Linked DNA regions of Homo sapiens. The protein of the gene in region 1 purifies or fractionates together with the protein of each later gene. This does not show direct contact. Each region holds a gene or a part of one and is shown on either strand. Other genes may lie near its edges. The genes, in order: GLS2 and HIP1R.

What was found.
Region 2: the proteins of GLS2 (region 1) and HIP1R purify together in Homo sapiens (affinity purification with mass spectrometry; one large-scale study listed by BioGRID and IntAct). This does not show direct contact.

Annotation. Positions count from the first base shown.
Region 1 is NC_000012.12:56,474,545-56,478,352, reverse strand, and holds part of GLS2 (glutaminase liver isoform, mitochondrial isoform 1 precursor), read left to right. Parts: exon of another isoform or gene 1-90; coding exon 91-170; exon of another isoform or gene 171-256; coding exon 257-420; exon of another isoform or gene 421-634; coding exon 635-693; exon of another isoform or gene 694-2,375; coding exon 2,376-2,408; exon of another isoform or gene 2,409-2,670; coding exon 2,671-2,729; exon of another isoform or gene 2,730-3,169; coding exon of another isoform or gene 3,170-3,242; coding exon 3,243-3,309; exon of another isoform or gene 3,310-3,456; coding exon 3,457-3,507; exon of another isoform or gene 3,508-3,632; coding exon 3,633-3,808.
Region 2 is NC_000012.12:122,841,933-122,845,740, forward strand, and holds part of HIP1R (huntingtin-interacting protein 1-related protein), read left to right. Parts: intron 1-3,808. UniProt on the Homo sapiens protein: Component of clathrin-coated pits and vesicles, that may link the endocytic machinery to the actin cytoskeleton. Binds 3-phosphoinositides (via ENTH domain).

The DNA.
Region 1 (3,808 bases):
TTTTATCTAAAAGATTCTCTTGACCCTCAACCTCAACTCTGTTCCTCTTCTCCACATCCATCTCCCTTTTCTCTACCCACTCATGTCCAGGTGGCAGCCTACATCCCTCAGCTGGCCAAGTCAAACCCAGACCTGTGGGGTGTCTCCCTGTGCACTGTGGATGGTCAACGGTGAGATGCTGGGCAAGAGGAAGGGGAGGCAGGGCACAGGTGCCGAACACAGGCCAACCCCTTTCATGGCATCTGTCTGCCTCCAGGCACTCTGTGGGCCACACAAAGATCCCCTTCTGCCTGCAGTCCTGTGTGAAGCCCCTCACCTATGCCATCTCCATAAGCACCCTAGGCACTGACTACGTGCACAAGTTTGTGGGCAAAGAGCCAAGTGGCCTGCGCTACAACAAGCTCTCCCTCAATGAGGAAGGTGAGCACTACCAAGGCTCAGACCGTACTTACAGCTGTCCCCTTCTCCTTATCCCCACCCCATCTCCCAGCCTTTTTTGTTTCTCTGCCCTTCCTGATTAGCCCTGTCATGCCTTTCTCCCTAGCAGTCTTTCTTGTCTAACCCACAAAGTGAGCGGGCTGTCAGGGAGGCTTTGTTCAGTGGCTAAGACTCTTGGTGGTTTGTATTTCCCCAGGAATCCCCCATAACCCCATGGTCAATGCTGGTGCCATTGTTGTCAGCTCCCTGATCAAGGTCAGTGCCACCTTAACCTTCTGATAGGTATTATCCTCTAAGCTCCTGTGTTCCTGTATCCCTCATATTTGTTCAGCTCTCCAGGGAGACTGGTGGGGCTCTGATTCCTTTGAGGGTCCCCAGAAGGCACATGAGGCACAGCAGGGACCCACATGTTATGCTGACAATGTCAGTATAAGAGACTGCACCACCTCCGTCATCCCCACTCAGTACTGTTCCCTGCCCCCACCCATGAGTCTAGAGCCTAGAGCTTTCTGACCCTTAGAGAAGTGAGCAGGTCCTGACCCCTGCCTAGGACCAAGGGCCAAATGCCAGAGACAAGGGGAGGACAGCACTATTGGGCACTGATTGGCCACTTCTGGGTGTGGGACACCTGCAGGCAAGGGTGAATGGCCAGGCCAGGGCAGTTATTCACGTCACCTGGAACTGTGAGTTGGCCTTGAACAGGGTGTCAGACTAGCCCATCAGCTGTAGGTCTCCCAGGGCTTGAGCAAGAACCTGGGAGCAGCTGGGCAGCAACACCCTGGAGCCAATCACAGCCCCTCCTGGGGAAGGTGGTGTTAGGAATCCTCCCCTCAGGGACTCAGGTATCAGAGTCCCTGTGGTATTGACTCTGTAGTTGACACATGAGTAAGCAATGAGTCTGGGTGAGGAAAAGAGGCTGAGTCTCTCCCCTTGTTCTGTGATGGCTCCATCTACAAACCTGTATCTGGGACCTGCCTCATCCCATTCCCATCTAAGTAGGACCTTTTTTAAAAAATATAGAGGCCAGGCGCGGTGGCTCACGCCTGTAATCCCAACACTTTGGGAGGCCGAGGTGGGCAAATCACGAGGTCAGGAGATCGAGACCATCCTGGCTAGCACGGTGAAACCCCGTCTCTACTAAAAATACAAAAAATTAGCCAGGCTTGGTGGTGGGCACCTGTGGTCCCAGCTGCTCGGGAGGCTAAGGCAGGAGAATGGTATGAACCCGGGAGGCGGAGCTTGCAGTTGAGCCGAGATCCTGCCACTGCACTCCAGCCTGGGCGACAGAGCAAGACTCCATCTCAAAAAAAAAAAAAAAAAAAAATTGAGGCAGGGTCTCTCCTATGTTGCCTAGGCTGGTCTCAAACCCCTGGTCTCAAGCGATCCTCCTGCCTCAGCCCCCCAAATTGCTGAGATTACAGGCATGAACCATCATGCTGGCCAATGGGATGGAGTAAAGCTCCAGCATGGGGTGTAAGGAATGGGGATGGAGATCAGGGATAGGGTGGGGCTAGGAGACAGGATTCGAGTCAGGAAAATGAACGTGGGAGTCAGGGATGAGGGTTTGGATTGAGAATGGAAGTGGGATGGCCCAGCAAGCTGGCTCATGCCTGTAATCCGAGCTACTTGGAGGCTGAAGTGGGAGGATCGCTTGAGCCTGGGAGGTCAAAGCTGCAGTGAGCCATGATCGTGCCACTGCACTCCAGCCTGGGTGACAAGGGTGACAAAGCAAGACTGTCTCAAAAAAAAGAAAGAGAAAGAGAGGAGCCAATGGAAGTGCGGTGTTTTCAGAAGGATAAAAAAAGGGCCATTATAAAATTGAACACATTTGCAGCAGCAGGACCAGACTAACACTAGAACTCCACTAGATCCTTCTGACCCTTCCCTCTGTCATCCTCCTACACTTAGAATGCTGACATCTCTCTCTTTCTCTGCAGATGGACTGTAACAAAGCAGAGAAGTTTGATTTTGTAAGTTCCCTTGCTACTTAGCCCCTGGCTGCATTTCGCCATGGCATGCTGTCCTCTCCAGCTGCCCCAGTGGCTCTCTAACCCCACTACCAGGTGCACCAGCCCATACTAGAAGCCTTATTTCCAGAAATGTGGAAATCTGCTGGCCTCAGAGAGGAAAGCCTCTTGACAAGACCTGAGTTCAGAAGGGCTAGTCAACCTGTGAGGTATTAATAGAGCTTCTTAACCAAGTGGAGCCTCAATGTCCCTTTTTCTCTTCCAGGTGTTGCAGTATCTCAACAAAATGGCTGGGAATGAATACATGGGTTTCAGCAATGCCACGTAAGTCCCTACTCAGAGGACTGACTGAAAGCATTGTGGTGTATGTGTGTGTACTTAGGATGGGGACAAGAGGAATGGGGGAGAGAGAATCTTAGGAGGAAGAAATCCCAGGGGAACTTTGGCCCTCCAGCTTCCTCTGAGTCCCTTCATAAACATTTGTTTATCTTGTAAAATAATTTGTTCCATTTCTAATTAGTACATAATGAGAGAGGCAGTGTGATGGTTTGTGCCTAAGCCCTTTCTTGCCAAGACTTTCAAAGCCAAAAACTTCACCAGTTTTCCTAGATGACTAGACAGTTTGGGGTGTTTGGTTTGGGTTTACTTTATAACAAAACTATGCTGAGTGTTTGCTCAGGTTCAGAAATTTCCTCTAATATTACTGTGAGAAGTTATAAAGGGGTTCATTTAGTTTGTGGTGTGATGTAGTTCTGTCTCTCCAGGGAAGGTAATTTTTCCCCTTCTCCCAACACCCACTCCTCCAACTTCAAGTACTAAATTGGGTGTTTGCTTCAGATTCCAGTCAGAGAAGGAAACAGGGGATCGGAATTATGCCATCGGCTATTATCTCAAGGAAAAGAAGGTAACCAGAAGAGGCCGGAAGAGAAAGTCCCTGGGAATTCTGCTGCTAGTGGAAGGGCAGTAGGGGTTGGGGGCTTCAGCTGAGACCCTGACAGTGTGAAAGGGCTGATGTCCTGAAGAGAAATGCTCTCCCCTCTCTTCCTTGCAGTGCTTTCCTAAGGGGGTGGACATGATGGCTGCCCTTGATCTCTACTTCCAGGTAAGAAAACACTGCTCAGGGCCGAGGGAACAGGACAGACTGTCCTTGCCCTTGCCCTTTCCCTACACCCGAGGGTCCCATGTGCAGGTTCACGTCACATCTTCACCTATTCTTTGTTTTCATAGCTGTGTTCTGTGGAGGTCACTTGTGAATCAGGCAGTGTCATGGCAGCCACCCTCGCCAACGGTGGGATCTGCCCCATCACAGGCGAGAGTGTGCTGAGTGCTGAAGCAGTGCGCAACACCCTCAGCCTCATGCATTCCTGCGGCATGTATGACTTCTCTGGCCAGTTTGCCTTCCA
Region 2 (3,808 bases), about 66 Mb from region 1:
CCAGGACCAAGCAGGCCTGGGTGAGAGTGAGGGGAGATACAGGTTAAATGGAGCGGAGCAGTTGCCCCTGACTTCCTGTCTGCTGGAGCTGACCCAGCTGTCCGCCTCGCTGCTTTGCGTGTGGCCATATCCCGGCCTCCTCAGCTACAGAAACCCTGTGTTTGCTCTGTCAATGGCCTTTGAGGGGACAGACGCATTTGAATGAGATCTCTCTGTCCTTCAACCAACTCTTTGGAAATGTTAAAGCAAAATAACCTACCGCTCTGCCAGCGTCCGTCCGTGTGCCCCAGCTCTTTGAAGAACGTTCTTGTCCCTGCCAAGTGCTGCTGTTAGGTGCCACGATAATACAGCACAGGGAGGCTTACGTCTGATTCATTTCAGCGTTGATTTTAAAAATAGAAATTGTTTTATAATTACTTTTACTCTGCAGCTCTAGTGGATAAATTATTAGCTGGAGAAGGAGAGACTCAGTGCCCTGAAGTCGTCCAGTACTTGTCTTTGAAAGAGCTCTTGTCCTTCGAGTGTTCACCCTTCCATTTGCCCAGTGGGGATTTGCTGACAGCCAGATGTTGGTTTGGGCCTAGAGATACAGCAGGAAGGAAGATGTCCCTGTATTCGGGGGTTGGAGGTGGGGACAGAGTATGATCGGTGGACAGACAACTCCGGAGCCTCCTGGGCCACAGGGTGCCGCGGGGTTGGCGTGTGGGGCAGCCGCTGCCTGGAGCCTCCCAGCTCAGTTGCCTGGCTTTGCTGACAGTGCCCATTCCTGCGGTCTGTTTCCATCTGGACTCCACATCAGGCCTGGGCCAGCAGCCTCTCGGGAGCGTCCCCTGCCTCACCCTGATCTCCCCTCTTCTGAGGCAGCACTCACTGAGATGCTCGCTGGGGTGTGCCCCATGAGTCTCAGTCCAGGGACCAGTGCAGCTCTGGGCTGCTCACGAGTCAGCGGGCTCTGTCTGGCCTGATTGTTCCTGGAAGCAGGGCAGGTGTATCCTGAGGGCTTGGGCTCCCCCTGGCCACTGGACTGAGCTGAAGGCCGCAGCCCAGAGGCAGATGCCCTCGCCCCAAGGGATGGGGGTAGTGGGAAGGGCCCTTGGCTCTGCCAGCCCCAAGGCCTTCGTTAACTTGAGATTTGAACAAATCCTGATCCGGAGCCCACTCGCAATTTGGAGGCATGTTAGCAGGCCCTTGGGGAGTGGGGCTCCTGTGGTGGGACGATAAGGATGTCTATGCTGACACACTTCTCCCACACCCAGGCCTAGCCCGCACCCTGAACTGTGAAGGCCATGCAGCCCAGGGCCGCCTGGGAGGGGCCTGAGGGGCTCCATCTCCATCTCTGGTCCATGTCTGGCCCACATCTTTTTGTTATTTATGACCTTGGACAGGTGGTTAACCTGCAGCCTCAATGTCCTCCCTTGCCCACCTGCTCCGAGGTTCCTTGTGAACATTAATGAGGCAACACTGGAACAATGCTGTCTGCTCGGGGGCCCAGTACAAGGCTGAGCTCAATAAAATTGAATTTATTAATAGGTTATTGAGACCTGTCTGCTGGCCTTATGGCATAGAGTATGTTCTTACACACTTGGCGATGCCAGCTATCCTGAGTGTATCTGCAGAGCCTCACCTGCCCCCTGGGCCCCTGGGTGCCCCTGAGCTTTGTCCCCACTCTCTGTCCTTAAAGGTCAGGCCCCTCCTGCTGCCAGCACTGGGCAGGATAAGAGCAGGCTCAGAGAGTTGTGAGCAGGTGGCCCCTGGGGCGTGGGTGTGGACTCCGAGGATTTTTCGAGACCCGAAAAGCTGCAGGGTCTGTGGAACCAGGCAGGAGCTGACCTCACTCTGCTTCTGCCCCTCTCTGCTGTCTCTGCGGACCCTCCAACTCCCTTCTGCAAGGTGTCTCACGGCGCTGTGGAACTCTCTATTATTGTTTTGTTTTGTTTGAGATGGAGTTTAGCTCTGTTGCCCAGGCTGGAGTGCAGTGGCATGATCTTGGTCACTGCAGCCTCCCAGGTTCAAGCGATTCTCTGCCTCAGCTTCCTGAGTAACTGGGATTACAGGCACACACCACCATGCCCGGCTAATTTTTGTATTTTTAGTGGGAGTTTCGCCATGTTGGCCAGGCTGGTCTCAAACTCCTGACCTCAAGTGATCCACCTGCCTCGGTCTCCCAAAGTGCTGGGATTACAGGCATGAGCCACCACACCTGGCCTATTATTTTTACTTTTTAGAGGCAGGTTCTCACTCTGTTACCCAGGCTGCAGTGCAGTGGTGCTATCATGGCTCACTGCAGCCTGGAACTCCTGGACCCAAGCCATTCTCAGCCTTCTAAGTAGCAGGGGACTACAGCCGTGCACCACTACACCCGGCTAAGTTTTAAATTATTTTTGGTAGAGATGGGGTCTTGCTAGGCTGGCCTTGAACTCCTGGGCTCAAGTGATCTCCCACCTCAGCCTCCCAAAGTGCTGGGATTATAGGCGTGCGCCACTGTGCCTGGTCCCCCTCCATTATCACTTCTGTCCTGCTTCCTCCAGAGACCTCCCCTGACCCAGCCAGACACCCCTCCCTGTTGTGCCCAGCAGTGGGAAGAACAGCATCCTCCTCCTCATGCTCTCATGCTGCACATTATCACTGCATCCCCTGCAGAGCCCTGGTCCCACAGCCACTCACAGCTGTGTGGAAACTGCCCTGCCAGGCTGTGTGTGAGGCCCCTGCCTCTTGGGAGCTGGATGGGAGCTGTGGGTGCTGAGTAGCGGACAGACCCCGGGGCGGTCACATGTGTCCTTATGATCTTCCTTTCTCTAGCACTGGGTTTTTCCACCCTGAGCTGAGGTCCATAATCAATCCCTTCCACTCCTCAAAGGCTGCGCTGCCCTGAAGGGGTGTCTCTGGCAGCTGACCAGCCAGCCTCTGGCCTGTGTCAGAGCTGCTGGGGTTGTTCTGCCCGAGGGGCCACATGGGGCACAAATGCAGGCTAGAGAACCCAGGGACAGGCCTGGGCAGCCCTCTACCTCCCATGGCACGCTGCAGTTTCCCCACCTTCAAAATGGGGAGAACTACGTTCACCCCACTCGGCAGCTGTGAGGACAGCATGTTGAGAACCTCAGGACCCAGAACCAAGTATTGCTGGCAGTTGGACCTGCCTCGGGACTGTAAGCCTCAGAGCGGAGCTGCGTCAAGGACACCGTGTGGGTCTCACCACAGAGTGAGCCCGAGTGCCTGCTGCTGCGGCCCTCAGAACCCTGGAGCCACTTCCGCAAGGGAGGGTCAGCAGCAGACGGGAGTAGGTGGGACATCACTGGGACCTGGCGGGCTTCTCCCGGGACAGGGCTTAGCTGCTACTGCCTGGTCAGAGGCGAGGCCCACGGAGCAGCCACAGACTCCCACTGTGCGAGCACTGTGCCTCCTTGTGTGGCGCTCTGAGCCTGGTGCACACATCTGCCCATCCTAGACACAACGGGGCTGTGTTCCCAGAGCCAGCCGGCACCCTGCCCGGGAGGGCCCTGCTGCCACGGATCCTGTCCCCTGCCGCCAGCGCGGGGAGCAGGCAGCACTGAGGCCCAGGCGCACAGGAGACCATGCCATGTGCCCAAGGCATGCCCCGTCACACTGCATTCCTGGGGCCTCCCTCCTGCCATGAAAGTCATTTGCATGCCAGGCACTGTTGAGGAGCTGGGGGTTCAGCAGCACCTATAGGCCGATCTGCTTCCCCTCGTGTTGCTGACTGCTGGGTGAGGGGAGAGGGTGATAAATAAGGAAACACTCCACTGTCTGAGGGTGCCCGGCCCTCAGAGACCATCCATCCAGAAGGTGC